4 linked regions of the Homo sapiens genome follow. The protein of the gene in region 3 purifies or fractionates together with the protein of the main gene of each other region. This does not show direct contact. Each region holds a gene or a part of one and is shown on either strand. Other genes may lie near its edges.

Evidence for each region.
Region 1: the proteins of SNRNP27 (region 3) and HDLBP purify together in Homo sapiens (affinity purification with mass spectrometry; 3 studies listed by BioGRID and IntAct, with this or other methods). This does not show direct contact.
Region 2: the proteins of SNRNP27 (region 3) and RBM12 purify together in Homo sapiens (affinity purification with mass spectrometry; 2 studies listed by BioGRID and IntAct, with this or other methods). This does not show direct contact.
Region 4: the proteins of SNRNP27 (region 3) and TLN1 purify together in Homo sapiens (affinity purification with mass spectrometry; 2 studies listed by BioGRID and IntAct, with this or other methods). This does not show direct contact.

The regions. Positions count from the first base shown.
Region 1 is NC_000002.12:241,312,118-241,319,967, forward strand, and holds the start of HDLBP (vigilin), read right to left. Parts: upstream 3,556-7,850; 5' UTR 3,453-3,555; exon of another isoform or gene 3,238-3,452; intron 3,114-3,237; exon of another isoform or gene 2,985-3,113; intron 1-2,984. Other genes in the region: SEPTIN2 (septin-2), read left to right, coding at 4,351-4,438, 5,382-5,477. UniProt on the Homo sapiens protein: Appears to play a role in cell sterol metabolism. It may function to protect cells from over-accumulation of cholesterol.
Region 2 is NC_000020.11:35,648,238-35,655,600, reverse strand, and holds the end of RBM12 (RNA-binding protein 12), read left to right. Parts: intron 1-256; 5' UTR 257-278; coding exon 279-3,077; 3' UTR 3,078-6,676; downstream 6,677-7,363. Other genes in the region: CPNE1 (copine-1), read left to right, coding at 2,059-2,073.
Region 3 is NC_000002.12:69,889,242-69,897,591, reverse strand, and holds the start of SNRNP27 (U4/U6.U5 small nuclear ribonucleoprotein 27 kDa protein), read right to left. Parts: upstream 3,637-8,350; 5' UTR 3,608-3,636; coding exon 3,574-3,607; intron 2,499-3,573; coding exon 2,378-2,498; intron 1,157-2,377; coding exon 1,044-1,156; intron 216-1,043; coding exon 136-215; intron 1-135. UniProt on the Homo sapiens protein: May play a role in mRNA splicing.
Region 4 is NC_000009.12:35,696,448-35,702,082, forward strand, and holds the end of TLN1 (talin-1), read right to left. Parts: intron 3,930-5,635; coding exon 3,744-3,929; intron 3,635-3,743; coding exon 3,527-3,634; intron 3,015-3,526; coding exon 2,909-3,014; intron 2,710-2,908; coding exon 2,585-2,709; intron 2,487-2,584; coding exon 2,361-2,486; intron 2,233-2,360; coding exon 2,170-2,232; intron 2,059-2,169; coding exon 1,876-2,058; intron 1,726-1,875; coding exon 1,597-1,725; intron 1,470-1,596; coding exon 1,344-1,469; 3' UTR 501-1,343; downstream 1-500. UniProt on the Homo sapiens protein: High molecular weight cytoskeletal protein concentrated at regions of cell-matrix and cell-cell contacts. Involved in connections of major cytoskeletal structures to the plasma membrane.

The sequences.
Region 1 (7,850 bases), about 170 Mb from region 3:
ACAAATGACATGAAGCTGTAACCTTGATTTGAAATAAGATTAATATGAATGCTAATAAAAAGTAGTAAGGGAGAGTATGTAGTCAATGTATTCTTACCAAATTAACAACAAGTATCAACAAGATGACTAACACAACCACATGATGTCCAGACACGTCTCAGAACAAATGTCTAGCTCATCTTCAACGGTATTCGAGGAACTTCAGTGTGCTTGGTAAAACAATAGCCTACTAGGGATTTCACTTCTAAAATGTCTCTGACTTTAGAAATACCAAAAAATAACATGTAACCAAGTTTTAAAATATTATACACATGAAAAAAGGTTCTTTTCATTATTTTCTTGGTTTCCAGATGTTGAACGTTGTGGTGCTTTTACAATTGAAGAGAAAAAGCATTCTGACACATTATACTGGTTGGGGTTCTCTGCTTTTCTACTTGGTCAAAAACCTTTACACGCATTTTGGACTTTGTGTCATCATAACTTGGCAATTGGGAAAGCCGCATGATATGCTTCTTTCAGAACTTGGTTACTTCTTACCAAAAGAGGGAAAAGCTTTCGTATCACCATTTGCCTATGGGATGGATGCACAATGAACGGGCCATACCAAATAAAAATATCACTTTGTACTCCAAAAAGCATGTTCTCTGCTTAAGCCCTTTCTGTAAGTTTCAGCTGGGACGCACTAATGGAGAATCCATATGACCCACGAAGGATCGTAAGATATCCCAGTGGACCCGGCACAATCATCTCAAATTCTGTTCAGGTCAGAGTATCTTAGATAAAACTCACTGAAGGGCATCAAGTCCTTCAGTACACAGTCTGAGCCAAGCCCTCTACCATTTGCCATGGCAAGAGTATACCAAATTCTAAACCTGTTGCTCACGTATGCCACCAACTATAAATGTCAGCCTCCTCTTTCCTAGTCTTCCTGTCCACTCAGCACCACCTGGAAAAACTCTTACTCGTCTTTTAAACCGCAGTTCAAGGACCACATTCTGTAGGAAGACTTTCCAACAGGTAACCACTGCCTATTTCCTATGTCCACACCTTACACATATTTCTATCATTGCACTTATCACACCATAATGTAATTACTCTTCTACAAATAAGTCTCTCACACTAGACCACAAGCTGCCTGAGGAAAAGAAAAGTCTATATCCTCTTTTTTTGTTGGCTTTTTGAGACACAGTCTCACTCTGTCGCCCAGGCTAGAGTGCAGTGCTACAATCTCGGCTCACTGCAACCTCCGCCTCCTGGGTTCAAGCGATTCTCATGCCTCAGCCTCTTGAGCAGCTGGGATTACAGGCGCGCGCCACCATGCCAGGCTAATTTTTGTATTTTTAGTAGAGACAGGGTTTCACCATGTTGGTCAGGCTGGTCTCGAACTCCTGACCTCAAGTGTCCACCCGCCTCGACCTCCCAAAGTGCTGGGATTACAAGCGTGAGCCACTGCACCTGGTCGAAAAGACTATATCCTCTCAACCTTTGTATCTGCAGAACCCTTAACCCTACACAGCAATTTCCAGCAAATATTTTTTTGAATTGAAATGAAGAAGTGAGGTCATGAGGCTGAAGTCAGACAACTGGAAGGCCAAAACAACAAAACCTGGAAAAATACGTATTTACTCAAGAAGAAATTCTCCCACCAGGCCACTGAGAAGTTAGCTTTGCCCACTGGAGAGGACACTGTAACAGGGATTCAAGTAAGCCTAGTGGCGCTGAGGGACGTGATATAGGTCAACTATATCTTTGAGGTGCTCTCCTTACACTCAATGCACTTTTACCCGAATGACGTTAATTTGACTCCTGATAAGATGAGCTAAGTCCCTTCAACAGTGCTTGGCACCAAGCAAAACTAATAGCAGTAACAGGAAAGTTTAATCCTCATGATGAATTATTTAATGGGGTTTCAAACGCTGTCCCTGAGACTTGAGGCAGTAGGCTCCAGCTCCATTTTCCCCAAGTCTAAAACTTGATAGGTTGATGTTTCAGACTCAGAGATTCGGTAATCCAAATGATGGAAATAATTCTTACCCAAACACCTTTTCAACTATTTTTAAATACTGTTGCCAAGCATCCTAATATCATGTGTACTTAATGAATTTAGCCTAGGGATACTTTTACATGTCAAAAAATCAAAATATAAACCTAAGCACTACGTTTCATCCAGTGTTTCAGCATCCCAGATTTGCTTCCCTAAATGAACATTAAGCTTATTATGCAATGTGCCGCTACCAGGAGCCTTAGACAAAACCCTAATTGTGACTTAACCTATCTTAATAGGGTTTTAAGGAAGTTAGCTGCTAAGAAAGTGACTATCCTTAAGCAGACACCAAATAAATGTGAAGTCATTGATTGAGGGCTTAGGGTATAGGTAGCTATGAATCTGAGGACATAAAACGCAAAACTGAGGGGCAAATCGTCATGTTCCTTAAGATTACGACTCATCCACATTCCTTCAGCCGTTTAATTTCACCATAATAGGCACTGTTTAATAAGCAAAGCCCAAGTCGACTTCCTTCGATTTTACATGGCGTCCAAACACCATGTCAAGTCTGACCCTCTCATTTTTTAAGTCGAATGGAGAGGATATGTAGCAGCTAGCCTTGAGCACCTAACCACTTTTCAAAGGAGCTACGCACAAAAATACCCTAGCAACATGCCACGGTGTCAGAAAGGCTCAGGTTCCCAACACCATGCGGGTCAGCCATTAGGAACTCAGGAAGTGTTTCCTCTAAGCGGGGGAAACCTAGGAAGGCTTCCTGAACGAGGGGTATTTGCGCCAAGCCTTGACGTGAGTCTCGAACAGTTGCAGTGCCTCCAGGCCACGCGGGAGGGAGGAAAGGACACCCCGGGCCGGGGCACAACCCGCGGGCCGGAGCCGCCCGCGCCCATCCCGCTCAGGCCGCAGCCAGGCACGGCACCCTCCCGTCCCCGAGCCACGTCGCTGCTCGTGGGCTCGCGGAGCACTCCCCAGGTCTCACCTCGGGCCCCACACCAGAAGGAGAAAGCTAGGGGCCGCGCCAGCTCCGCCCTCCCCCGCGGGGCGGCGGGCCCCAGCCCGGGCACAGGAAGGCCACGTCCCCGGGGAGGGACGCCCGACTCGATGGTCTGCGCAGGGCCCGTCGGCCCCACGTGACGTGCGCGCAGCCAATCCCAGAGAGGCCCCCCGATCATCGAGACGGCGGCGGTGGTGGGCTAGACGAGTTTCGCGCGGCCGCTCGCCGTCCCCCGCCCAGTCGTACTCGGCGCCCCAGCTCGGTGCTGCCGCCATCTTCTTGGAGGACAGGAGGAGAGGCGAAGGCTCCCCCTCCCCGTGATCGCTCCGCACTCCCGCCACCACCTGCCCTCCCGCGACCGCCTCTCTCCTCCTCAGTGGGCACTTGTCTCCTTCTAACAAACGGCCTTCCCCCCACTCCAGTTACCCACCGCAAGGCGAAGATTCTCATTACCTGTTCCACTCTTATAAGCATAAGAAAACCGAGCTCATAAGGTAGGAACTGTGGCGAAACAGGGACAAGCCGCCATCTTGGTAAAGGAGAAGAGGCTACGCTTGACCTCCCCCCCCACCCCCAGCCTCTATATGGCCAACTGCCGTGGGAGGAGCACGGCGCTTGCGCAGAGGCGGACAACGCGGACGACTCTGGGCTTGCGCACTCGGAAGCCGGCCGCATGGGGGAGGGGAAGAAGGCCAGGTCGCACTGAGCCAGGAAGCAGTTGGCAAAGGGGCGGGGTGACGCGGTGACGCAATCCGCCTGCGCGCTGGGCGGGGCGGGGCGGGCTGGGGCGGGCTGTGAGCGGACCGCGAGCGCTGGGCGGGTCCGCGGCGCGGTCGGTCGGCGCCTGTTCTCGGGCTGTTTGGCGGGTGAGTGTCTCGCCGGTGTACCCCGCACAAGTTGTGGGCCGGCCCTCCCGAGGAGCTGCGGGGGACGCGCCGCTCGTCCCATACTCTCGGGCGGTGGTCGGCTGGCTCTGGGGTGCCGGCGGGGCGGTGTGGGGGAGGGGCGGCCGAGCCCAGGCTCTTCGGCACTTATCGTGGGCTCCCCCGTCCCGGGCGGTCCTAGTGCCGGCGACAGTGGCTCCGACACGGGCAGGCCCGGGCGCGGGAGTGGGGATTCCGGTGACCCCTTGTTGACCCTGCGGGAATTCCTCTGCACTGTCGTCGGTGCTGGGCCTCGGGGCGTCGAGTGCGGTCGAGGTCGGGAGGTTTGGTGCTTGGAGGGAGGATACAGGTTTAGGCCCGACAAACACTTAGAGCTTGTGTGGCCATCTTGTCTTTCTAACGGTGCCATTTCCTCCCTGAGGCGTGGAGGACTGGCCAGCCCCCAAACCTCCAAGCCCATCGGCTGGATGCCGTGGATAAGCGAGGGGAGAGCGACTAGGCCCTGTCTGCGGGTACCTTCGGCGAGGAGAGGCGACGAAGGTCTGCACCAGCGAGGCACGGACAGGCAGCAGGGGGTAGGGTATAGGGTTGGAGGCCGCCGAGTTGGCCCGGGGATGAGGAGCAAACCTGTGGCTTCCGTGGTCTCAGTGGAGTCCCAACTGTGACCTGGCCTACTGGCCCAGACAAACCTGGCTTGCTTTTTTACCTTTTCGGTCTAATTCTTGTCAGTGCCACCAGACCTTGTCCTCTCTCCACGGAAACACACGAACCAACTACACTGAACTTCTTGTAGTTCAAACTTCTGCACCTTTGGCCATTGCCCAAACTCTTAAATCTGGCTACTTCCCACCTTAACTGCCTTCTCCTTACCTAGTCTGTGCTTGTGGGATTCCGCCCAAATTAGATTTCCTCCAGACAGGCTTAGGTGTTTACCTGATGTTCCAGATGGTATTTGTCCAGTGGACTATTGGTGCTGTGAGGGCAGGGCACATGTTGTCACCCATACTCATTGCCTCGGTTGGTGTCTAGCACCTAGTAGGTTCTCAAATACTTTTTGAATCACAGTGCCTGCCGATATATTTAATGTTTCAAAATAGTTCTGCCGTCATAAAGAAAAACATCATGGTGTAGGGGTCATGAAAGCTGATTCTTGATACTTCTGATTTGAGCCTCATTGTTTTCAGTGATTTTTGATAGCTCCCATTAATGGGTTCTTTGCACCACCCAGCATCCTAACTCATGATGTGTACTGTTATGTATAATCTTGGCATTGATCTCATTAGCTATAAAGGTTGTCCTGATTTTTTTTCCTCAACTTCCACCTTGATTTCTCTCACCAGTGCCACAGCCAGGAATAAAGAACAAGAGCGTTTTAATTAGATCAGATTTACATTCTGACTGGCTCTTAAACTAGCAAGGTGACCTAGGGAAAGGGGCCAGGGTTTCCCTCTATCATTCATAAATGTAATTCAGGGCCCCTTTTTATCCCCAATACCAGCATACAGAAACTGCTGTAAAAGAAGAAGTTGTGGGTATTTTTTTTTTTTTTTTTGTCTGGAGGAATGGGGACACCAAAACTCATTTGGCAGCAGAGGTGAGGTAAGGCCATTTGTATTGTCTGTTCTGTTAGTAGTCATACATGCCACTTATCCCTGCCCCAGTCCCTGTTAGGAGTGTTATGTGGGTATACTGAACGTGGACCTTCCCCGAATCCAAAGAATCCAGATGCTTTGAATAAGATCATGGACCTTCCGGGTTCTACATCGCCAGATGTTGTTCATCTTCTATCTTTTGTTTTGCGAAAATTGGTTTTTTATGTGTATTGGGGTTATTCTGTGGAAGAAATAAGCTGTGGGTCAAGATTAAAGAACTTTAAACAACTTCTGGCATGTGGAATAAACACGATCTGAAGGAACAAAATTTTCATTTGACTACATTTTTGGTCCAATTTGCACCCAGTGTTTAAGTTAATCACAGTGCTTGGCAGTTTGTGTTGCTGGATCAAGGCTTTCTCACTGAAAACCATGTGCTTCAGAGGTTCATAATTCCTCTTTCACCTTCCATTTCACATTAGTTAATAAATTATGAGAGAAAACATTGTGGATCCAAGTTATGTTTCAGAAAAAAAAAAACAGGAAAAAAAAAAGATGGCAGGAGAAACTTGGTAAAGTCAAAGCAAAGTTGAAATGTCAGTTTAAGACAAATAGTTTCTCCATTTTCCCATATGTGTGCACAGGGTTCAGTGAGGCTGAGGGGTTCTGTGGAGGTGCGGGAGAGGTGCTCTATGGTATTTCTATGTTGCACTGTGTGGGTTTGAAATCAGATACATGTAATAGGTGATAAGGTAAGTGCCTGCTCTTTTCTATCCTCAGCATTGGCATTTAATCTTTCCATGTGAACTTAAAGCTCATTTTATCCAATCCTTTAAGAAAAAAGCCACACCGTTAGGGATTCCAGTTAGAAATGGACTAAATAACATACTCATTTGGGGAAAATAAAAATGATTTGATTTATGTAGGACCTGTTTTCTAGTTTGGTCCCTACTTGTTTGGATTTTTAAAAATTCTGTTGTAAATGATGTGCCCCCATTTCTATTCCTTGATATTTGTTGCTGGTACTTGACTTACTTGAGATCTTATATTTAGCTACCTTACTAAATTATCGTATTCTAGAATTTTTTTAACCAGAGTATTTGTATTTTCTTTTTTTTTTTTTTTTTGAGACAAAGTCTTGCTCTGTTGCCAGGCTGGAGTGCAGTGGTGCGATCTCAGCTCACTGCACCCTCCACCTCCCGGGTTCAAGTGATTCTGCCTCAGCCTCCTGGGTAGCTGGGATTACAGGCAGGCGCCACCACACCTGGCTAATTTTTGTATTTTTGGTAGAGACGGGGTTTCACCATGTTGGCCAGGATGGTCTCAATCTTTTGACCTCGTGATATGCCCGTCTTGGCCTCCCAAAATGCTGGGATTACAGGCATGAGCTACCGCACCCAGCCGAGTATTTGTATTTTCTGTGTATTCAGTCCAATCAGCAAAAAAGTGTTTTCTTTTGATTTTCTTGTTTCATTATATTCAGTAAACTCACCAAGGTAGTATTAAATAATCATGGTGAAATTGCAATATCTGGATCTTACTTGGATCTTGATTCACATGAAAAAAATGAGAGAATAGAGAATATGAATACTGATTGGATATTTGATTGCATTAAAGAACTAGCTATGTGTAATGGTTTGTCATTTTTAGGAGCCCTTATTTTTAGATATGTGTAGTGGAATATAAATGAAATGTTACATCTCGTATTTGCTTCATAATCATCCAGGCAGTGGCATTGATGATTGTGGAAATAGATGAAACATTATTGACCTTCAGTTGCTAATTGTTGAAGCTGGATAATGGATAGCACATGGGGGTTTTGTTTGCTTTTTGTATAGGTCTTCATGTAAAAGTTTTCATGTAAGTGCTTAAAAATAATTATGGAAGGGCATTCCTGCCGAATTATCGGTTGTAATTTAAATAGATTTAATTTTCTATTGTTTAGAAAACAGTATTTGCCTTTGGTTTTCAGAAATATCCTGAATTAGATTTAAGCAGTTTTCCTTTTTTTCTTTTTTTGAGACAGTCTCACTCTGTCACCCAGGCTGGAGTGCAGCAGCACCATCTCGGCTCACTACAGCCTTCACCTCCTGGGCTCAAGGGATCCTCCCACCTCAGTCTCCCACTTAGCTGGGATTACGGGTGCCCGCCACCACACCCAGCTAATTTTTTTGTATTTTTTGTAGAGACAGTGTTTCACCATGTTGTCCAGACTGGTCTTGAACTCCTGAGCTCAAGCGCTCCTCCTGCCTCAGCTTCCCAAAGTGCTGGTATTACAGGCGTGAGCCACCACACTCTGCCAGCAGTTTTCTTACTGTTTTCATTATGATTGGTTGCTGAATTTCATATGCCTCATCAGCATCTATTAATGCATG
Region 2 (7,363 bases), on a different chromosome or scaffold from region 3:
TTTTTCTTGAACTTTTTGAGTCTTGGGACTGAACTGTTTCCAAAATTAATGCCTTCTGGAAGTTGAAATTGTCTACGTTTTACATTGTAAATGGCACGTAATGTTCAGTTTTTAGAATATCTAAATTAAAGACATTGCCTGTGATAGCTTGAGGGAATATTTGAGGGCCTAATATGGTAGCTGGTCATTCTTGTAGCTAAAAACTTGGTGTGATAAACAGGAGTCTGACCTGGCCGTTGCCTTTTCTCATCTGCAGGTGTGTGTGGTTTCAGCGCAGCATGGCTGTGGTCATCCGTTTGCAAGGTCTCCCAATTGTGGCGGGGACCATGGACATTCGCCACTTCTTCTCTGGATTGACCATTCCTGATGGGGGCGTGCATATTGTAGGGGGTGAACTGGGTGAGGCTTTCATCGTTTTTGCCACTGATGAAGATGCAAGGCTTGGTATGATGCGCACAGGTGGTACAATTAAAGGGTCAAAAGTAACACTATTGTTGAGTAGTAAGACGGAAATGCAGAATATGATTGAACTGAGTCGTAGGCGTTTTGAAACTGCCAACTTAGATATACCACCAGCAAATGCCAGTAGATCAGGACCACCACCTAGCTCAGGAATGAGTAGCAGGGTAAACTTGCCCACAACAGTATCCAACTTTAATAATCCATCACCCAGTGTAGTTACTGCCACCACTTCTGTTCATGAAAGCAACAAAAACATACAGACATTTTCCACAGCCAGCGTAGGAACAGCTCCTCCAAATATGGGGGCTTCCTTTGGGAGCCCAACGTTTAGCTCAACTGTTCCAAGCACAGCCTCTCCAATGAACACAGTCCCGCCGCCACCAATTCCTCCAATTCCAGCGATGCCATCTCTGCCACCAATGCCATCCATTCCCCCAATTCCAGTTCCTCCTCCAGTACCTACATTGCCTCCTGTGCCTCCTGTGCCCCCGATTCCCCCAGTTCCTTCTGTGCCACCCATGACCCCACTGCCACCCATGTCGGGCATGCCGCCCTTGAATCCGCCACCTGTGGCACCTCTACCTGCTGGAATGAATGGCTCTGGAGCACCTATGAATTTGAACAATAATCTGAATCCTATGTTTCTTGGTCCGTTGAATCCTGTTAACCCTATCCAGATGAACTCTCAGAGCAGTGTGAAGCCACTCCCCATCAACCCTGATGATCTGTATGTCAGTGTGCATGGAATGCCCTTTTCTGCAATGGAAAATGATGTCAGAGATTTTTTTCATGGGCTCCGTGTTGATGCAGTGCATTTGTTGAAAGATCATGTAGGTCGAAATAATGGGAATGGATTGGTTAAGTTTCTCTCCCCTCAAGATACATTTGAAGCTTTGAAACGAAACAGAATGCTGATGATTCAACGCTATGTGGAAGTTAGCCCTGCCACAGAAAGACAGTGGGTAGCTGCTGGAGGCCATATCACTTTTAAGCAAAATATGGGACCTTCTGGACAAACTCATCCCCCTCCTCAGACACTTCCCAGGTCAAAATCGCCCAGTGGGCAGAAAAGATCAAGGTCAAGATCACCACATGAGGCTGGTTTTTGTGTTTACTTGAAAGGGCTACCATTTGAAGCAGAAAACAAACATGTCATTGATTTTTTTAAAAAGCTGGATATTGTGGAAGATAGTATTTATATAGCTTATGGACCCAATGGGAAAGCAACTGGCGAAGGCTTTGTAGAGTTCAGAAATGAGGCTGACTATAAGGCTGCTCTGTGTCGTCATAAACAGTACATGGGCAATCGCTTTATTCAAGTTCATCCAATTACTAAGAAAGGTATGCTAGAAAAGATAGATATGATTCGAAAAAGACTGCAGAACTTCAGCTATGACCAGAGGGAAATGATACTAAATCCAGAGGGGGATGTCAACTCTGCCAAAGTCTGTGCCCACATAACAAATATTCCATTCAGCATTACAAAGATGGATGTTCTTCAGTTCCTAGAAGGAATCCCAGTGGATGAAAATGCTGTACATGTTCTTGTTGATAACAATGGGCAAGGTCTAGGACAGGCATTGGTTCAGTTTAAAAATGAAGATGATGCACGTAAGTCTGAACGCTTACACCGTAAAAAACTTAATGGGAGAGAAGCTTTTGTTCATGTAGTTACCCTAGAAGATATGAGAGAGATTGAGAAAAATCCCCCTGCCCAAGGAAAAAAGGGATTAAAGATGCCTGTGCCAGGTAATCCTGCAGTTCCAGGAATGCCCAATGCGGGACTGCCCGGTGTGGGACTGCCCAGTGCAGGACTTCCCGGTGCAGGCCTGCCCAGCACAGGACTGCCTGGTTCAGCAATAACCAGTGCAGGACTGCCTGGTGCGGGAATGCCCAGTGCAGGAATACCTAGTGCAGGAGGTGAAGAGCATGCCTTCCTGACTGTAGGATCAAAGGAAGCCAATAATGGGCCTCCATTTAACTTTCCTGGTAATTTTGGTGGATCAAATGCCTTTGGGCCACCAATCCCTCCTCCAGGATTAGGAGGCGGGGCCTTTGGTGATGCTAGGCCTGGTATGCCTTCAGTTGGAAACAGTGGTTTGCCTGGTCTAGGACTGGATGTTCCGGGTTTTGGAGGTGGACCAAACAATTTAAGTGGGCCATCGGGATTTGGAGGGGGCCCTCAGAATTTTGGAAATGGCCCTGGTAGCTTAGGCGGTCCCCCGGGGTTTGGAAGTGGCCCTCCTGGTCTTGGAAGTGCCCCTGGGCATTTGGGTGGGCCACCAGCTTTTGGGCCTGGCCCCGGCCCCGGCCCCGGCCCTGGCCCAATCCATATTGGTGGTCCCCCTGGCTTTGCATCTAGTTCTGGAAAACCAGGACCGACAGTAATTAAAGTGCAAAACATGCCCTTTACTGTGTCTATTGATGAGATTTTAGATTTCTTTTATGGCTATCAAGTAATCCCAGGCTCAGTGTGTTTAAAATACAATGAAAAAGGTATGCCCACAGGTGAAGCCATGGTGGCCTTTGAGTCTCGGGATGAAGCCACAGCTGCTGTCATTGACTTAAATGACAGGCCTATAGGTTCAAGAAAAGTAAAACTTGTATTAGGGTAGCCATTCACATCATTTTTTATAGGGTAGATCTTCATATTGCTGTGATTAATGCATCCAGATTGTTTTCCTAGTATTTCCAGGTTAGAACCTGTGGATTGTTTCAATTGCATATAGCTTGGTTTCCATAACATAGAGCATTGGTTGACTGTTTACAGAAGACTCACTCACCAGGATAAACATTGCTGTATGTTACAGTAAAGCTATCTGGAGAGAACACATAAATGATTTTGGCATACCATTAGAGAAACCATTTGTAAAACTCAAATGACCACATAAAGCTTATCAAGGAGTCTAGATTGGTTTTGTTTTATACCATATGGGATGAAGAAAATAGAAATGTCAGTAGAACTCATTGAGGGTGCTCTTGCCAGCTGCTGAAAATAGAAGTTGGCTACTCTCAGAATTTGGTTTAAAGCTGGACAGATTTGCTTTGTTATAGGGTAAAGCTTTGTCTAAAGTCCTCATTTTCTTTTAAAATTGAATAAAATTTCTGTATACAGATTCATTGTATGTACCTTTATTGCTTCTTAAGGGTCCTTGCTGTATAGACAGTCCTGCTTCAGAAGTTGCTGCTTTGTTTGTCTAATTGACTCATTTGTAAATGAGCAGAACTGTTTTGTTGGTTTTTTTCCCTAAATATAAAAGTCCACACTTCGTTTGTGCTATAACCTCAAACTTTGATTTCTAATGTCACACTTAAAACTGTGTGGAATAAGACTTTTGCCATAAAAATAAACTATGGAGTCCTTTATCTACCAGAGCCTTTTTGGTTTGACCGCCACGATTTAGGTTAGTCAGTTTAAAAATTGTTCATGTTGTTTGGATGGTATCGAAAACCAGAAACCACTTTTAATAATGTGTTTAAGATACTTGATTTGAAGTCCTTTTCATATGGACTAATTGTAGTATCAATTTCCTCCTGTCCCGATTATGTGAAATTTTGGCCTTTAAACAAAGAGGGGCCCATTCATAAGAAAGTGTTATATCTAGGTTTTTAAAACTGAAGTTGAAATTATCTTTGTTAGCAGTAGTAGTATAGAATAAAAGATCCGTATGCTGGTTCGTAGATTGATACGTGTTAGTCCTGTTATTTGGAGGCTTTTTGGCATAGTTGTTCGATCAGGAGCCTGTTTACTAAAAGTCTTCATACAGAGTACAAGTGCAGCCGCCAGAGGAGAAAATTGAGATTCTTGACCCTTTCATACTCTTTTCTTTGGTATTCAGGACACTAAGGCAGGAGGACCACATGAGTTCTGGTTGGTAAGTGTCCTTGTCATGAAAACACTTGCCTTACAAGGCTCTAATTATGATTTCCCTAGTCAGTGCTCTGAAGATGTGTCACATTATATTATAAACAATACGGAAGGGGAGATAGGTGAGATGATATGAAAAACAAATTTTCTCACTGTCATAAAAGGCTCTAATTATGGTTACTTTCCTTGTGATGAAAAACTTGGCCTTACAGGGCTCTAGTTATGGTTACTTTCCCTAGTCAATGCTCTGAAAATGTGTCACATTATAAACAATACAGAAGGAGAGATAGATGAGAGATCATGAAAACCAAATTTTATCTTTTACATGGCCCCTTTGTCTTCGTTTGAAACATCCCCAACATTTCCTACAAATCAGCGTAGTTACAAAGGGGTCAGTCTTTTAAAATAAGTATTTCCTATTAAACTATATATATATACAGTGCCTTTTTGGTGTTGTGAGTCAGTGGAACACTGAAATACAGCGGTTGTGTAATTTAAGAGTGGCAACAGTTTCATTTGATAAGATTTGAAAAGGCTTTTTATCACTACAATCTTAGAGGATTGACAGTACAGGATTTTTGTTTAAGAGAAGGATTGTTTAGACTCAAGAGGTGACTATGTTGTGGGTCTTTTGATAATTCATGAATACAGATTTGCTTTGACCGATCACTAGATACTGCCTCCTCAATTTCAAAAGCAATATAACGTTTGTATATGCTGTTTAATTTAAGTTAATGTTAAGTAATCATTTCTCATTCCAAAGACAATGCAAAAAACTTCAGCACTGCTTGAGAGTTGTATTTCAGCCACAGATATTTTCTCCATTGGAAAGCTATTTTCATTTTAGAAAAATGGGTTGTTTGAAGATGAAAGTCTTTTATCTTTTTTCACAATTTATTTTGGTTATATGTTCGTACATTCTTATTAAATATTTCATACACTTTATTGCAACTACTTTGTTATTTCTACATCTTAGATAAATGCTGAAAAGGAAAACGATTTCATTGTTCATCTAATTAAATAAATTAAAAGAGCGGTTTGTGTAGAAATTGGAGAGAACTATGTTTTATATGAATCACAACAGTGCTCGTTGTGGACTGTAATTAAATGCTTTGCCCTCTGGAACTTGATTTTTGTGTATCTGAGATTTATTAACAGTGCTAACTGCTAAGGATACTGTTTATCTTGTTCTGGGCATTGGAGTTTCAGTTTTTAAAAAATTCTTGAAAATGTATTCTGTGAAACTACTCATACCTCTCTTCCTGCGAATTTTCTCCTAAGAACTAGGTTTGGGGTAGAAATGAATTGACATTATTTTCTCATTTGCTTTGTATGGTATGAAGGATTTGTAAAGCTTTGCTCAAAGTTGTGTGCATTTGTAAACACTATCATGATATTTTCAATTTTATGTGTAAATTTTATTGTCTGTTTTTGGTGACTCTGACATTAATGGAAGAGAATATTTTCCATTAGATTTAATTTTTTTTCCTCTCCCTTCTGATTTTTTTTTTATTGGTGTTCATTTTTCTTTTGATTTAAAGGATTAGAGAAATCTACAAATGTATGTCATAAATAAGCAAATTTGTAAACTTTTCTGAACTTTAGTGAAACATTTAGTTCACAAGCATAATTTGGAGGTGTGTTCTGTGTTTACACAGTAGTTTGGATGTACAATTATTATTAGTGGCTTTTTAAAAAATGAAACAGTGTTAAGTGAAATGTAGTTCCTAGCTTTGTACTCCAAGTTGTCAAAGCATCAACAATGAAAATTCGATTAGGAAACTTTATTTAAAATTTCAGGTAGTAATATTCAGTGTAGTTAAGGCCAGTCTTAACCCACTGGATGAAAATCTAGGACTGTATGGAAGTAAGCAAACATTACATTTTTAGGTGGAAATAGTCAGCCTTGCATAAAAACAAGGATGCGTGAAAGCCTTAAATTCCAGCTCCCTTTTACTGGAGTCTGTGGTTGTGTACAGGTATGGGCCAAGTGTAAAATCTCATCAATTTTAAGAACACTCGGGAAATGAGTAAAGAAAATGTAAAATTGCTGCTAGTCAAATCTTTTGGAAAGAATTTCTGGAAGTGGTCACTTTAAAAATTATTTTCCACCCTTGCAAAATTGCCACATTTAAATTGTTTTACTGGCAGTTCTATAGTAGTCCAGACTTTAGAAACCAAACACAACAAAATGGCTTGTTGCCAATATGGCCACAACATTGCCAGCAAATACTGCCTTGGCATCACTCAGCAGAGGTTTTTGTTTATAAAGATGAAGTCTTGAATACTGTTCAATAAACTTGTCAAAAAATAAAACAGGCTGATGCTTTTAATGCTTTAACTGCACAAAAGTACTTTACTGAGCTATAATATTATCTTGTCAGGGTTTTTGTTTTGTTTTGTTTTTAAACCTGAAAATATTTTGTGCCTTTGGAGAGGTAGATTTGGTAATCTTGGAGAGGTAAAAATTGTTGCTTATCCTTGCCTGCTAATGCTGAAGTGTCAAGAGAAGAGGATACTTGGAACAGCAGGGAGGAAACTTGATTCAAGTCCATAGTATCCACCTTTTCAGAATTTTATGTGTATGATGTGTTGGCAAACAAAGCCCTTAAATGTTGAAAACTTTTTATCTTGAAAGAGTTTAGCTTGTATTAGAATTTGGATACCCAGTGTGTTTTAGAGGGGGCTAGACATATAATTCCAGGTAGTAGCTGAGCCATTATTAAATAATCGGGATTTGACTAAGCAATGGACAAATCACTGAGTGAAATCAGCTGCCTACAGATATCCAAAATGGCTTTTACCATCTGAAAGGGGTGGACTGTGTGATAATATGTCTCCTTTTCTTGTTCAGGAGAGATCAGTTATGTAATTCATTGTTACCTGCTTTCCAGTGTTTTACAGCAAGAAATAGTTTATCAACTATGTGCATCATCACTAATCTCCCAAAAGTAGAGCTTTTACAGGGTATGGTAGAATCAAACTTATGGCTTTCCTTTTTTATTAAAAATGGCTTTATTTCAGTCTTATCTT
Region 3 (8,350 bases):
TGTATTCTCAAAGCCCTTCAAACAGATAGTTATTGTCTTATAACCAAATAAATTTGTATAAATGGAAAAGAACATGGAAAGATAGGACAGTCATAACATATTAATTCAAATGAGAATGTTGCACGTTTTACTTACTTTTGTGGAGTCAAAGGAGGCAAATCCCATTAACTTCATCATTTCTATTTCTTCCTCTGTTTTGCCCTCTAAGTCTTCCTCTGCAAAAAAGAATAATTTTGTGACCTCTCTATCATTTCAAATATATACATAAATAAAAAGAGAGGTGGTAACAGATTAATAGTCATTCCACCTCACTAGCAGAGAACACACAAAACAATTAGCTGAAGATGAGTCTAATGAAAAAATTCCTCTTACATTTGGACAGAATGTAACTTATGGTACAAAAAAAAAGTCCTCTCCTTGAAGCCTTTAGACAGGATTACCTTTTAAAAAAAAACCTGGGTTTCATATTAAGGACTACCTTTAATATCAGGCATGACACTATATAGTTCTGAAGACACTTCCAAAATAGAATATTCTCATGTTTTTAACTATCGTTCTATATCAGGAGCACCATAGATAACCAGCAACTTGCTAGGGTGCAATTAAAACAAAATCTCAGGCTGGGCACGGTGGTTCACGTCTATAATCCCAGCACTTTGGGAGGCCGAGGCGGGAGGATCACCTGAGGTCAGGAGTTTGAGACCAGCCTGGCTAACATGGTGAGAACCCGTCTCTACTAAAAATACAAAAATTAGCCGGGCATAGTGGCGGGTGCCTGTAATCCCAACTACTCTGGGACGCTGAGGCACAAGAATTGCTTAAACCCAGGAGGCGGAGGTTGCAGTGAGCCAAGATTGTGCCATTGCACTCCAGTCTGAGTGACAAGAATGAAACTCTATCTCAAAAAAAAAAAAACCAAAAAAAACTCAAAACCATATGCAATGAATACTATAAAAGGCTTAACATTTAAATGTTCAAGATTAAACTTTTATAATTTTATCATCACTGTACTTTTCCTACAGTTATTTATCTAATAACATTACCAGTAATCTGCCGTTCTTTGCTCTTTGTTTCTTTTGTTTCTTTCTTTTCCTCATCTCTTCTTTCTTTCAGTCGAGAAGGGGAAGGAGATGTGGATCTATGTCGTCTTGGAGATCTAATATTTATAAGCAAAGATGTTAGAAACAGACAGACATATCAACTTTGTATCAATCAGCACAGATATACATGAGGTGAGCTCCACAGAACCACGAGTCATTCCGTATAGCAAAGTGAGGAAAAAGGTTCTGCCAAGGCCTTGATTGTTAACAAAAAAATTTTTTAATGTAGTTTACTGCTTAATCATCAGTTGCATTCAGTACAACTAGGGCTAGAAAGCTTTCTGGAAGGCAGAAAAATGTAAATTAAAAGTTTCTAACAACCACACACAAATATACAAAAAAGCTGACTTAAACAGCAATTGATGGTTATTAAGACTCAGAGCCAGGTGGGGCTTGGTGGCTCACGCTACTAATTCCAGCACTTTGGAAAGCAGAGGCAGGAGGATTGCTTGAGCCTAGGAATTCAAGACCAGCCTGGGCAACACAGGGAGACCCTCTCTCTCAAAAAAAAAAAAAACAAACCAAAAAAAAGACTCAGAGCCCATTTCTAATGTTCTTCCAAGATCATCCATTCTTGATTACATACTTGAATAAATCATTATCACCAAAAAGTTAATAAAAAAGAAACAACAGGCCGGGTGCAGTGGCTCACGCCTGTAATCCCAGCACTTTGGGAGGCCGAGGTGGGTGGATCACGAGGTCAGGAGATCAAGACCATCCTGGCTAACACGTTGAAACCCCGTCTCTACTAAAAATACAAAAAAAATTAGCTGGGTGTGGTGGCATGTGCCTGTAGTCCCAGCTACTTGGGAGGCTCAGCAGCAGAATTGCTTGAACCAGGGGAGGCAGAGATTGCAGGGGAGGCGGAGGTTGCAGTGAGCAGATTGCGCCGCTGCACTCCAGCCTGGGTGACAGAGCGAGACTCCGTCTCAAAAAAGAGGAAAAGAAAGGAAAAGGAAAAGAAAAGGAAAGGAAAGGAACGGAAGAAAGAAACAAAAATATAAAATACTTATTTCTTTTTCTTGCCAAGCACCATGCTCTGGGGTTTGCATGCATTATTTCTTACTTACTCTTTCAAGACAACTTTGTGATGTAGAGTACTATTAGCACCATTTAACCAAGGTGAATGTTAGCTTTAGAATAAGGTTGGATTAAGTTTCCTCCATTTCAGGAAACCGTAAATCCCCTTATAAGCGATGAAAACAAAGTTAAGAGCTGCGACCAGTTTCTTAGGGACTTTCGGTAAATAAAACTCTTGGCTTATTTTCTGCCCTTACCGGGAGCGTCTTCGGTGCGGGGATCGCGAGCGGCTCCTTCTCCGATCTCTCTCCCGAGACCTGGACCTTTCTCGGCGCCTGCGTTCTCTCTCCCGGGATGTGGACCGGGAACGCCTACGTTCTAATGCAAACGCACACAAATTGCAGAACTGATAATTACCTCAAATATCTAGAGCTGCGCCGTCCAGTAGAAAAATAATGCAAACCATTACTAGTCACATTAAAAAGGTAAAAAGAGGCTGGGAGCGGTGGCTCACGCCTGTAATCCCAGCACTTTGTGAGGCTGGCGGGCGGATCACAAGGTCAGGAGTTCGAGACCAGCCTGGCCAACGCGGCGAAACCCCGTCTCTAATAAAAATACAAAAATTAGCCAGGCGTGGTGGCACGGACGGGTAATCCCAGCTACTCGGAAGGCTGAGGCATGAGAATCGCTTGAACCCAGGAGGTGGAGGTTGCAGTGAGCTGAGATCGGCCACTGCACTCCAGCCTGGGCGGGCGACAGAGCGAGACTCTGTCTCATTAAAAATAAATAAATTGATTTAAAAAAAAAACGAATCAGGGGCAGAACCGAGGGTCTAAGTTAGATCTCCTAATGGAAGTCCAGGGTTCTTTACGTCGCGCTGCCTCATTTATGGGGCTGGTAGCCAGAAAACATTACGAAGTGAGCTCCCAGGACTCAAAATTCTTAATATCGATTTCCCTGTAATGACCTGGGCAGGAATCTAACATTTATTAAGTATTTAAGAACCAGGCAGAATCACATACTGTATGTTATGGGATGTGACATTAATTCTCACATCAGTTTTTAAAAGTTGGCAATACTACCCTCAATGACTCATTCTGGGAATTCGATTCAGAAAGGCTGAGTAGTGACTTGCCCACCGTCGCCCAGAAATTCAGCAAAGGAACTGAGGTCTAATTCTAAACCCACCGGCCACAGTGTAATAAAAGTTATTGTATGAAGGTGACAAAGACTTAATGAAACTAATTCAGAGACAAACAACTGCCTTCAAACCGGAGAGGGCGGGCTGAAGAGGGCAGGGCCCAGGTCTACGTTCCTTTATCCACCCCTCGCTCTCCGCCTGGGAAAAGGGCCCGCCTCTCTGCTACGCGGCTACCAAAAACAAAACAAAATAAAACAAAAGGGACAGGCCTCCAACAGAGCCCCATATCCTCCGAATTGCTACAGGACTCACCCCTCCGTGGAGAGCGGCTGCGACTGCGACCCATTTGGAGTCCCGCTTCCCGGAAACAACTGTGCAACAACTTCCGGGAGGGCCGGGAACCGAGCTTTTACCGCCGACCAGAAAACGTCAAAACGAGTTGCGAGGGTTCCGGTCTTCTTTGTTCACGGTGGGCATTAAAACATGCGATTTGGTGTTATTATAGAAATTCCTGGAAAATTCAGCCGTATACCCATTATCCTAACACAGCTTTCATTTTTCCCCCATTTTTGTCCACATGCACAAAATAGAGCAAACCAATTGTAAACATAGCATAGACAAACAGCTTATGTTCTTCCACTTTTCCACATAACATTCATAAGGAGTGAATATACCAAAGTTCACTGTCCATCTGCTTTATATTTTCTCATGCCAGCATTGAGAAGGCACCCAAAACCTCCTATGGGCTCTTGGAAGGAAAACTAAAGGCCCCAGATTCCATCCTACCCGACAAAGTACTTCCCCAAAGTTGCCTCTGTCCTCAGGGAAAACAACAACAACAACAACAAAAACTTTAGAATGTTCAAAACTACAAAAATTAGGAGAAAGACTGTCTTGCCCCAAGGCTGAACCGTCTGTGGTAGAGCATAAATATGCTTACCAGGAAAGACTCAAACCTCTATTTCTTATTTTATTTTATTTTGTTCCAGGGTACATTTGCAGGATGTGCAGTTTTGTTACATAGGTAAATGTGTGCCATGGTGGTTCGCTACACCTATCAACCCATTAAGCCTTGCATCTATTAAGCTATTCTTCCCAATGCTCTCCCTCTCCCCAGCTCCTCCCCCTACAGGCCCCAGTGTGTGTTGTTCCTCTCCCTGTGCCCATGTGTTCTCATTGTTCAGCTCCTACTTATAAGTGAGAACATGCAATGTTTGGTTTTCTGTTTCTGTGTTAGTTTGCTGAAGATAATGGCTTCTAGTTCCATCCATGTCCCTGCAAAGGACATTATCTCGTTCCTTTTTATGGCTGTGTAGTATTCCATGGTGTATACGTACCACATTTTTTTAATCCAGTCTATCATTGATGGGCATTTGGGTTGATTCTATGTCTTCGCTATTGTGAATAGTACTGCAGTGAACATATGCGTGCAAGTATCTTCGTAATAAAATTATTTATATTCCTTTGGGTATATACCCAGTAATGGGATTGCTGGGTCAAATGGTATTTCTGGTTTTAGGTCTTTGAGGAAACACCACATTGTCTTCCACAATGGTTGAGCTAATTTACATTCCCACCAACAGTGTAAAAGTGTTGAACCTCTGTTTCTAATCAAACCAACTCTTTTCAGTCAGCTCTCTCTAGAATTATCAAGTCTAGTGACCTGGCTTTTAAAATACAAAGAGCTGGGGGATGGAAAGGGACTTTATTAGGTTGGAAAAAATGCCCACCAATCACATAAATTTTTAATTAGATTTATACATTCAGAGTGGCCTGTTTAATACCTGTCCCAACCCAAACTTCCAGGAAAGATCCAGCCATGACATCTAGGATTTCTACCAACAGCCCCAACCCCCAGATGCCTTTGGAATTACCCTGGCAAAGCATGCACTAGGTGTAGAATGGGGAGGTTCAAGGGAGGTGCAGACCCCAGGGAAGAAGATTTAGGGACATCATTGGAGAAACACACCACTAATGATAGCCAGGCGTGGTGACGCATGCTTGTAATCCCAGCTACTTGGGAGGCTGAGGCAGGAGAATTGCTTGAACCTGGGAGGTTGAGGTTGCAGTGAGCTGAGACTGCGCCACTGCACTCCAGCCTGGGCGACAGAGTGGGACTCCGTCTCAAACAAAAAAAAAAAAAAAGAAAGAAGAAGCACACCACTAATGATTGAAGAAATTATCCACAGGAAAGACAGGATTTATGGGAAGCCTAAGGGGGTATGTACTAGATGTGTAAGAGAGGAAGAACATGGTGGCCTCAGGTGGTGGCTGAAAATACTCTTTCTTTCTCTTTCTCTTTCTCCTTCTCCCCTCAGGGCTGGGGTCTCATCTGATGAAAATGCTTTTTAAGAAACCCCTCACCCGGCGCGGTGGCTCACGCCTGTAATCCCAGCACTTTGGGAGGCCGAGGCGGGCGGATCACGAGGTCAGGAGATCGAGACTACAGTGAAACACCGTCTCTACTAAAAATACAAAAAATTAGCCGGAGGTGGTGGCGGGTGCTTGTAGTCCCAGCTACTCGGGAGGCTGAGACAGGAAAATAGTGTGAACCTGGGAGGTGGAGCTTGCAGTGAGCCGAGATCGCGCCACTGCACTCCAGCTGGGCGGTAGAGTGAGACTCCGTCTCAAAAAAAAAAAAAAAAAAAAAAAAAAAAAGAAACCCCTCTAGGACTAAAAATGATTGGAAGGTATGCTGGGGATCAGTTGAATACACAAAGATTTTTTGAATGCATGCGATGCACAGGACACTATACCCCTTTGGCACTAGATTGAAAAGATGAGTAAGACATGGTCCCTGCCTCAAGGAGCTTGCACTCTAGCTGTGGAGGCAGACAGAGGAAGACACCTCTTCACTGTAATGTGGTAATATAAAATATGCACAGTGTGCTAAGGTGACATGAAAGAAGGCTATTCAGCCTAATTTGTCCAAGAGGGTTTCCTGGAATAATAATAATAGCTAATACATACTGTGCTAACTAAATGCCAGGCACTGTTATAAAAATGTTTATGTACACACACATTCACACACAATTAGTTGAGCTGTGAGACTGAAAAGAATACATTGTCCAAGCGAAGAGTAGGAGTAGCAGCAATAGCAAAGGCACAGAGATGTGTCACATTATGACATACACAAGCACTGAAAGAGGTTTGATATTATCATCACTTTGAGTTCACCATGGCAGACCTTACCAAGTACCTGGGACTTTATCCTTACAGTTATGGCTGGCCACTGGAGCATTTCAGGCTGGGAGTGACCTGACCAGATTTGCATTTTAGATGATTCATCTGGATGCCAGATCTAAAGACCTGAGCCAGAAAGAACAAGTGGAGGGAATGAGGGGTTGTACTAAGGCAATGATAGAAGAGAATGAGAAAGAACAGAATCAGGAGACATTTGAGGAATAGCATGGCAGGTATTGGAGGCTAGTTAGATCCAGGCAGTGGGAAGAGAGAGAAGAAACGACTTCCAGGCAGGGCCAGCTTTATAGGCATGTGACCTGTGTAGTCACACAGGGTCCTGGGCATAGAAGGGCTTAATACTCAGCTTTTGCTACTCTTGAAATTCCTACTAATCTTTGAACAAGAGGTTCTGCAATTTCCATTTTGCACTGGGCCTAGTAAAAAGTGTATCTCATAGTGATGCCTACTGAAGTGAGAAAGTCACAATTTGTCAGTTTACTGCTTAACTGAGACACGATGGTGAGTCCATGTGGGAGACAGTGGAGAAGGCAGTAAAAGGGAGATCCCTTTTTTATGTGAGAGCCCCTCTGTCAGTGATTAGTATGGACCCTTCCCTGCCCCTAGATCCCGCCATATCCATTCAGGGGAATTCCTTTTGTACACGTTTGCTCCACAGCATGAGGACCTAGTTACACTTTTGCTTTTGATGACAGGGAGAACATGAATTTCATTTTAGAAGATTATTAAGTGTGAGGGACTTGAGGAACATCCAGATAGATATATTTTTGGTAGGCATCTGACCAGCTACAGACTGAGTCTGATAATTAGGGAAGCAATCTGGGCTAAAGATAGAGATGGTGGGGTGGGCACGGTGGGTTATGCCTGTAATCCTAGCACTTTGGGAGGCTGAGGTGGGCGGATCATGAGGTAAGGAGATCAAGACCATTCTGACTAACACGGTGAAACCCCGTCTCTACTGAAAATACAAAAATTAGCCGGGCGTGATGGCAGGAGCCTGTAGTCCCAGCTACTCGGGGGGCTGAGGCAGGAGAATGGCGTGAACCCGGGAGGCGGAGCTTGCACCAGTGAGCCAAGATTGCGCCGTGGCATTCCAGCCTGGGCAGCAGAGCGAGACTCCATCTTAAAAAAAAAAAAAAAAAAAAAAAAAAAGATACAGATGGGGGAGTGATGCATTACAGGAGTCCATGAAATTGTCCCAGTGAGAAAAGTGTGCTAGATGAGCCAAGGATGGCCCCCATGTGGGGTTAAACAGACAAGAAAAGGCCCAAAGAAGCCAAGATGCAATTGTCAGGTAGCAAAACAAGAGTACAGAACAATGTGCTAGAATTCAGAGGGGTGGAGTTTTGAGAAAGAATGAGAATGTTCAGTGTAGCAAGCTGAATAATGGCCACCCAAAGATAGCTGGTTCTTTCCTCTGGAATCTGTGACTATTACCTTCTGTGGGAAAATGTTTACAGATGTGATTAAGAATATTGAGATAGGGAGATTATCCTTGATTATCCAGATAAACCCTAAATGCCATCACTAATGTCCTTATAAGGGACAGGCAGAGGGATGTTTGATACATACATGAGAGAAGGAGGCAATGTAACCACACAGGCAGAGATTGGATGGTGCAGCCACAAGCCAAGGTCTGCTGGCAGATTCTTCTCTAGAAACTCTGAAGGGAGCACATCCCTACTACACTTTGGGTTTGGCCCAGTAAAACTGGTTTTGGACTTCTGGCCTCTAGAATGGTAAGAGATGCTCTTGTTTGAAGCCATCAGGTCTGTGGTAATTGGTTGCATCAGCCTCAGGAAACTAATACCATCAGCTATGTCAAATGCAGCAGGGAATCCTTTAAAACAGGGGTCCCTAATTCCCAGGTCATGGACCAGTATGGGTC
Region 4 (5,635 bases), on a different chromosome or scaffold from region 3:
ATCTACTTCAAGCTTTCCCTAATGTGGTGGGAGTAGAAGGTGTTAGTAGCAGATGGGTGGCGTTTGTGTTCTACTTGAGGAAATAATGTACTGGGCGGTAGGGCTGACTAAAGAATCACGCATGAAAATAGTTGCCAACCTAAGACGACTGTCAGAGAGTCCATGCATTATGGACAGAGTGGCTGGATGGGGACGTGGAAGCACACAGCATCCACCTCTCTGACTGCCTCTTTCCACTGACCCACCAGATAAGCAGGGTGGCTGGAACAGGGCTGCTAGCACCTTCCTGGCCACTAGGGGAGCTCTGCCCCCTCTAACAATAAATTCTCACACCTGGGTCAAGCTCTTCACTTTTAGCGCTACCCTAGGCAGGAGTGTCCCAACCCAATCAAGAGCGGTGCCTACCCGAGGCAGCCTCAAGTTGGGATTTTTCTGCTTGCTAATGGCTTCAATCAGTTTTGTGGCCATAGTTCTCTTAGGCTCAGACACTTACAGGCATATTATTTTTAGCAAAGCTTCTTTTGAAAATTTGAATTTGGTCAAGGACTGGATTTGTTGACATACCCTGAGTAGCTATGAAGAACAGAATGTCCTGGTAGCCACAAGGAACTGTGGTAGCTGCTGTCCCAGCAGCAGCAGAACGACACTTTGTGAGGCTTAGGTGCTGGCCAGGGAGGTGAGGATAACAGGAGTATGACTTCTCAGGCACAACTTCCCCATTGGATAACTTTAGGGTCCGGGTGCAAGGAGGAAGGGACCTCAGGTGCAGACTGCCAGTCTTCCCCTCTCCCATTTCAAGCTGGATCAAGCTGGGTGACAGAATTCAACCCCACTGTCTCTCCTACTGCCCTGGGAGAAAACTTGTATCTCCCTTGAAGCCAGGCAGAGGTTGTAGGTAGAATCATTTTTATTGGAGCATGACCTGTTTGGGGCTTATAACTCTGCAGCCCCTATGGGTAGCTGGGGGTGGGGGAAGATAGTATCAAAAAACGGTGAAGAGAGCTGATGAGGCTGTGGGGACTGGCCGGAAGCTGCTGGCAGGGTGGAGTGGGCTGGGGCCCCGGCAGATTCAGATCGAGGTACAGCAGCGTTAATAATACTCTTGGAGCGTTAATACTCTGGGGAGGGGCAGGCACTTGGGGGGCCCTAGGGCATGAAGGCACTTGGGGTTGGGGAGGGGACAGGGGATGTACTGCGGGACTGGGCGGGGCCAGGCCCTGGGGTTTGGCAGGCACTTTGGGGAGTGCTGGGGTTGGGCAGGTTGGGCCCCGACAGCCCAGAAGGCTTTGGTAGTGGCACGCACAGTCTCTGGGCCGGGTCTGCATTAAATAGAAGAGGCTTCTTTAGTGCTCATCTCGAAGCTCTGAAGGCAGAAACTTGTACTGCTGCTGCCGGATCTGGGCCAGTTTCTTCCGCGCCTCTTCCAGCTCTCGTTCCTTCCGAAGCATTTCTTCCTGTGCTGCGATGATCTGAGGGTGGAGATCGGGGACTTAGTTCAGTGAGGATGCACAGCAGGGGCATAGGGTAGTTGGGACCAGCGCAGGCAACATGACTGCCCTCCTGACAGCGTCCCTCAGCATCTGGGGTGAAGCTCACCTGGGCAATGCCGCCAACCATCTTCTCTTTCACCACCACTGTCTCATTCTCCTGCTCTTCAAAGGCTGCAGCCTTCTGTGCTGCTTTCACCAGATTATCTGAGGCTCGCTTCACTGCGTTGCCAGCAGCCTGGGCAGAGAGAAAGTGGCCTAGGTTGAGAACTCAGGTACGGTCCCAGTTGAGACAGTACCTCAATTCTCTCATAGAAACATACATCTCGGGAGTGACAGTTTGAAGCAGTATAGCCCAAGGGACAATGGGATGGGTCAGGGTTCTCACCTGAAGTCGTTTCATTGCCTCCGAGTCCTGGTCAGCCTTGACCTTGCAGGCCACAAGGAGCTGGGCTGTGGAGGCAGCTACCTGCTTGGCTGATGAGATGAGCTTCTCCTGGCTGGCATGGCCTTGTACAGCTGCATTGGCTGCCTCACACAGATTGTTGGTGGCCGCAGCCACCATCCGGGCCTAAAGCAGGGAGAGTTTGCTTAAAAATATGCCCCTTGCCCTGGTCCATCCCCACTCCAGCCTTCTCAAGTCTCTCAAACTGAGAGAGACCTAGTGGTATTGCACACTTACAGCAGAAATGAGGCCCTGGGACCACTGCCCATCGTCCAGTGCATTGGCTGGAATGGCACCCACCTGTAGGAAGGAGAAGAGCCTACTTAGACCTGCATTTTCCTCACTTCAAAGACTCGCTGGCTATGGATGTGGATGTGGACATCAAAGTGCCAACCTGTCCCCATTCTTCTGGGTATTTAAGCACTCACCTTCCCTTGGGCCACTAGTTCTCTCTGGGCAGCCGACGCAGCCTTTACCAGTGCACTGGTGGCTGCTGCAATGGACTTGGCAGCTTCTAGTATCTGCTCCTCAAAGTTCAAGGACTCATCTGCCTCCTGCAATAAGCGAAGGTTGCAGAAAGAGATGTAAAGTCAGAGATGAAGGTGGGGACACTGCCATGGTGAGGGTGGAAGAGGAAGGGAGCAGGACTGACCTTGGGTTTGGCCCGGGGCTTCAGCTGCTCTAGCTTTTTGGCTGCAGCCTCAATGGCGGCTGCAGCTCCCAGGAGCTCATTCTCAGCAATGACTGTGGGGTCCTCTGGGTCTACCCATTCTGTTCCTGGTGGGATGAAGGAAGAGGAAAGAGGCTAAGGCAGAGTGGGGAGGTCAAAAGCACCAGGGAGCATGGTTAGTATCATCAGGCCCTGGCATCTGTGGGGACTATGGTCAGAGGCTAGCACAGAGCTGTCCAGCCAGGAAGCAGAGATCACACCATGATAAGGGTTTTCCATCCGTCCCTGTCCCTGGTCACCCCTCACCCTTCATGGCTTCAGCAGCCTGGATGAGCTCAGTGACGGAACCAGCCACACGCTTTGAATGTCCTGTCAACTGCTGCTTCAGTTCTGGGCTTGGCTTCTGCAGGGTCTGGGCAAGAAGCGGGCAGGGGACAAAGAGCATCACATCTTAGGGTCTACCCTGATCTATGAAATAGGGCAGACCATGGCCCCCTCACCCCTATCCCTAGAGCACTCCACACCATAGCCCTCAAACTCCACGCTGCCTATCCAAGTACACATCATGCATCACACCTCACACGTGATAGAGACAGTGGGGCTGTGTCACTCACCGGCTGACAAGGAGCAAGGAGAATGATGAGATGAAAGAGGAGACGACGAAAGTAGAGAAGGGGGTGGTCAGGTGGGAAGGGAGGAGAAAAGAAAAAGAGGAAGAGGAAGAGGTGACTGGGAGAACCAAAGATGATAAGAAGGATGGGGCCTGGGAGAAAGGGAGACTTGGAAAGGAGAACAGATTTGGGAAGTAGAGGGTGGGGTAGGGAGGAGATCTGAGCAAAACAGACAGCAGGGTGCGAGGCCTGCAGGAAGAGGGCTGTGTATTCAGGGAGGCTGGTATGAGGAACAAGCAACGCCCTCCCTTACCAGCAGTACATGGTCCAGCAGTTCCAGGTAGCCATTGGCACACTCCCGGCCATAGTGCAGGGCTCGAAGCCGCACATCAGGGGCCACTTCTGGGTGGTAAGCTGCTTCCTGTCCCCAGAGTAATATGTTAGCTTTAGGCCCCGCAGATCCCTACAGTTTCTCTCCCACTATGTTCTGGCCCAAAGCTGCCTCACGGAAATGCCTCAAGGATTTCTACCTTGCAAGCCCGAAGCATATCTGCAATAGCACGGCGGCTCAGATTGGCTGTGGCAATGACATCTTCCTGGCGACAGGAATTGCCAGCAGCAACGGCCTTGGCGGTTGCCATGGTGATACCCTTGGTCATTCGGATGAAGTCTTCTGGGGTAGAGGTCTTGGCAGGTGGCTCTGGGGAACAGAAAACCTGTGGGGGCAGAAGAAGAAGAAAGATTTTACAGTGGCTGAGACTATGAGACAGCGTAGAACTCTGTGTGCATGTGATTTGGTGCAGACATTCACACATCACAGTGAATGTAACAAGGCAGTTGGTTATTGTTTCTGACTGAAGCAACTGGGGAGTTTGTTTGTTTGTTTGAAATCACAAAAGTAATTACAAAAGTGGCTTTTGGCTGGGTTTTCATTCCCAAAATAGAGAGAAGCCTTGAAGGGGTGAGAGGCAGAGCTAGGCCATAAAAGATATACAGATGATAGGAGGGCATTTTAGGTAAATGGTAGGACATGAACAACCAAGATGTCACATCGGAAAGTATCAAGGAATGTTCTGGAATATAGGAATGGTGAAGAAAAGGTTATTGGGGACTTGAATATCACACCGAGGAACTTGGACTTTTACATAATATGTGAAAGTCATAAAATATTTTGATGTACGGGTTCAATCTGCAAACATTTATTAAAGATCAGCTAGGTGGCAGATTCTATGCAAGGGGCTAGGGATGCTCCCTGTTCTCATGGAGCTTACATTCTGGTTTTGGACACAGGTAATAAATAAATAAACAAGCAGCAAAACTGAGGACTGTGATTTGGATTATGAGAGAATAGAGACAGTGCTGTGATGAGAACTACTTCAAATAGGTGGTCAGGGAAGGGCTCTCTGAGGAGGTGACATTGAGGCTGAAGCCTGATGAACTGGAAGGAGCACAGTGTTCAAAAAGCTGGAGAGAACTGAGTGGAAGAGCCTGCAGCAGATAAGAGCTTGGCATGTTCTCAGAACTGATGGTGCAGGGGGATGGGGCACAGAAAGGAAGAGAGTAGGATGAGACTGGAGAAGCAAGCAGAGCCATCACTAATGGGTTTTAAGTAGTGAAGTGACATAATCTAATATATATATATTTCTTGCTCTGTCACCCAGGCTGGAGTGCACTGGAGTGATCATAGTTCACTGCAGACTTGAACCCCTGGGCTCAAGGGATCCTCCTGCCTTCAGACTCATGAGTAACTGGGACAGGCATGGGCCACCTTGCCCAGCTAATCTTTAAATTTTTTGTAGAGACAGGATCTTGCTATGTTGTCCAGACTAGTCTTGAACTCACTCAAGTGATCCTCCCATCTCAGTCTTCCAAAGCGCTGGGATTTTACAGGCATCAGCCAGCATGTCCAGACTCTAATTTATATTTTAAAAACATAATTTTAGCTACTGTGTACAAAGGAGGATTGGAGGGGGCAAGTGTTGAAGCATGGTGACTGGATAGAGACTACTGCATAAATCCAGTTAAGGACTGATGATGGTTTGGACAGTGTGGTAGTGGTAGGAGATAAAAAGAAAAAATGAGCTGTATTTGGAAGGGGCACTAGCAAAACTTAGATGTGGGGAATGAGAGAAAGAGAGAAGTCTAATATATTGAAGCTAGGTTTCTGGCTTTAGGAACTGAGTTACTAAGAGGTGCCATTTACTGAGATGGGGGAAGACCAGGAAAGGACCAGGTATGGGAGGCAGAAAGTCAAGAGTTCCAACTTGGACATCTTCAAGTAAAAGTGAAAACAGAACCTTAGAAAGATGCATTTAGAAATTAGAAAGATGAGTAGGGAGAGAGGAGAGTGGCAGGGACCAGAAGCAGGGAGACCAGGGAGAAAACTGGTGCCACAGCCAAATTGCGGGAGAGTATGGAAGTG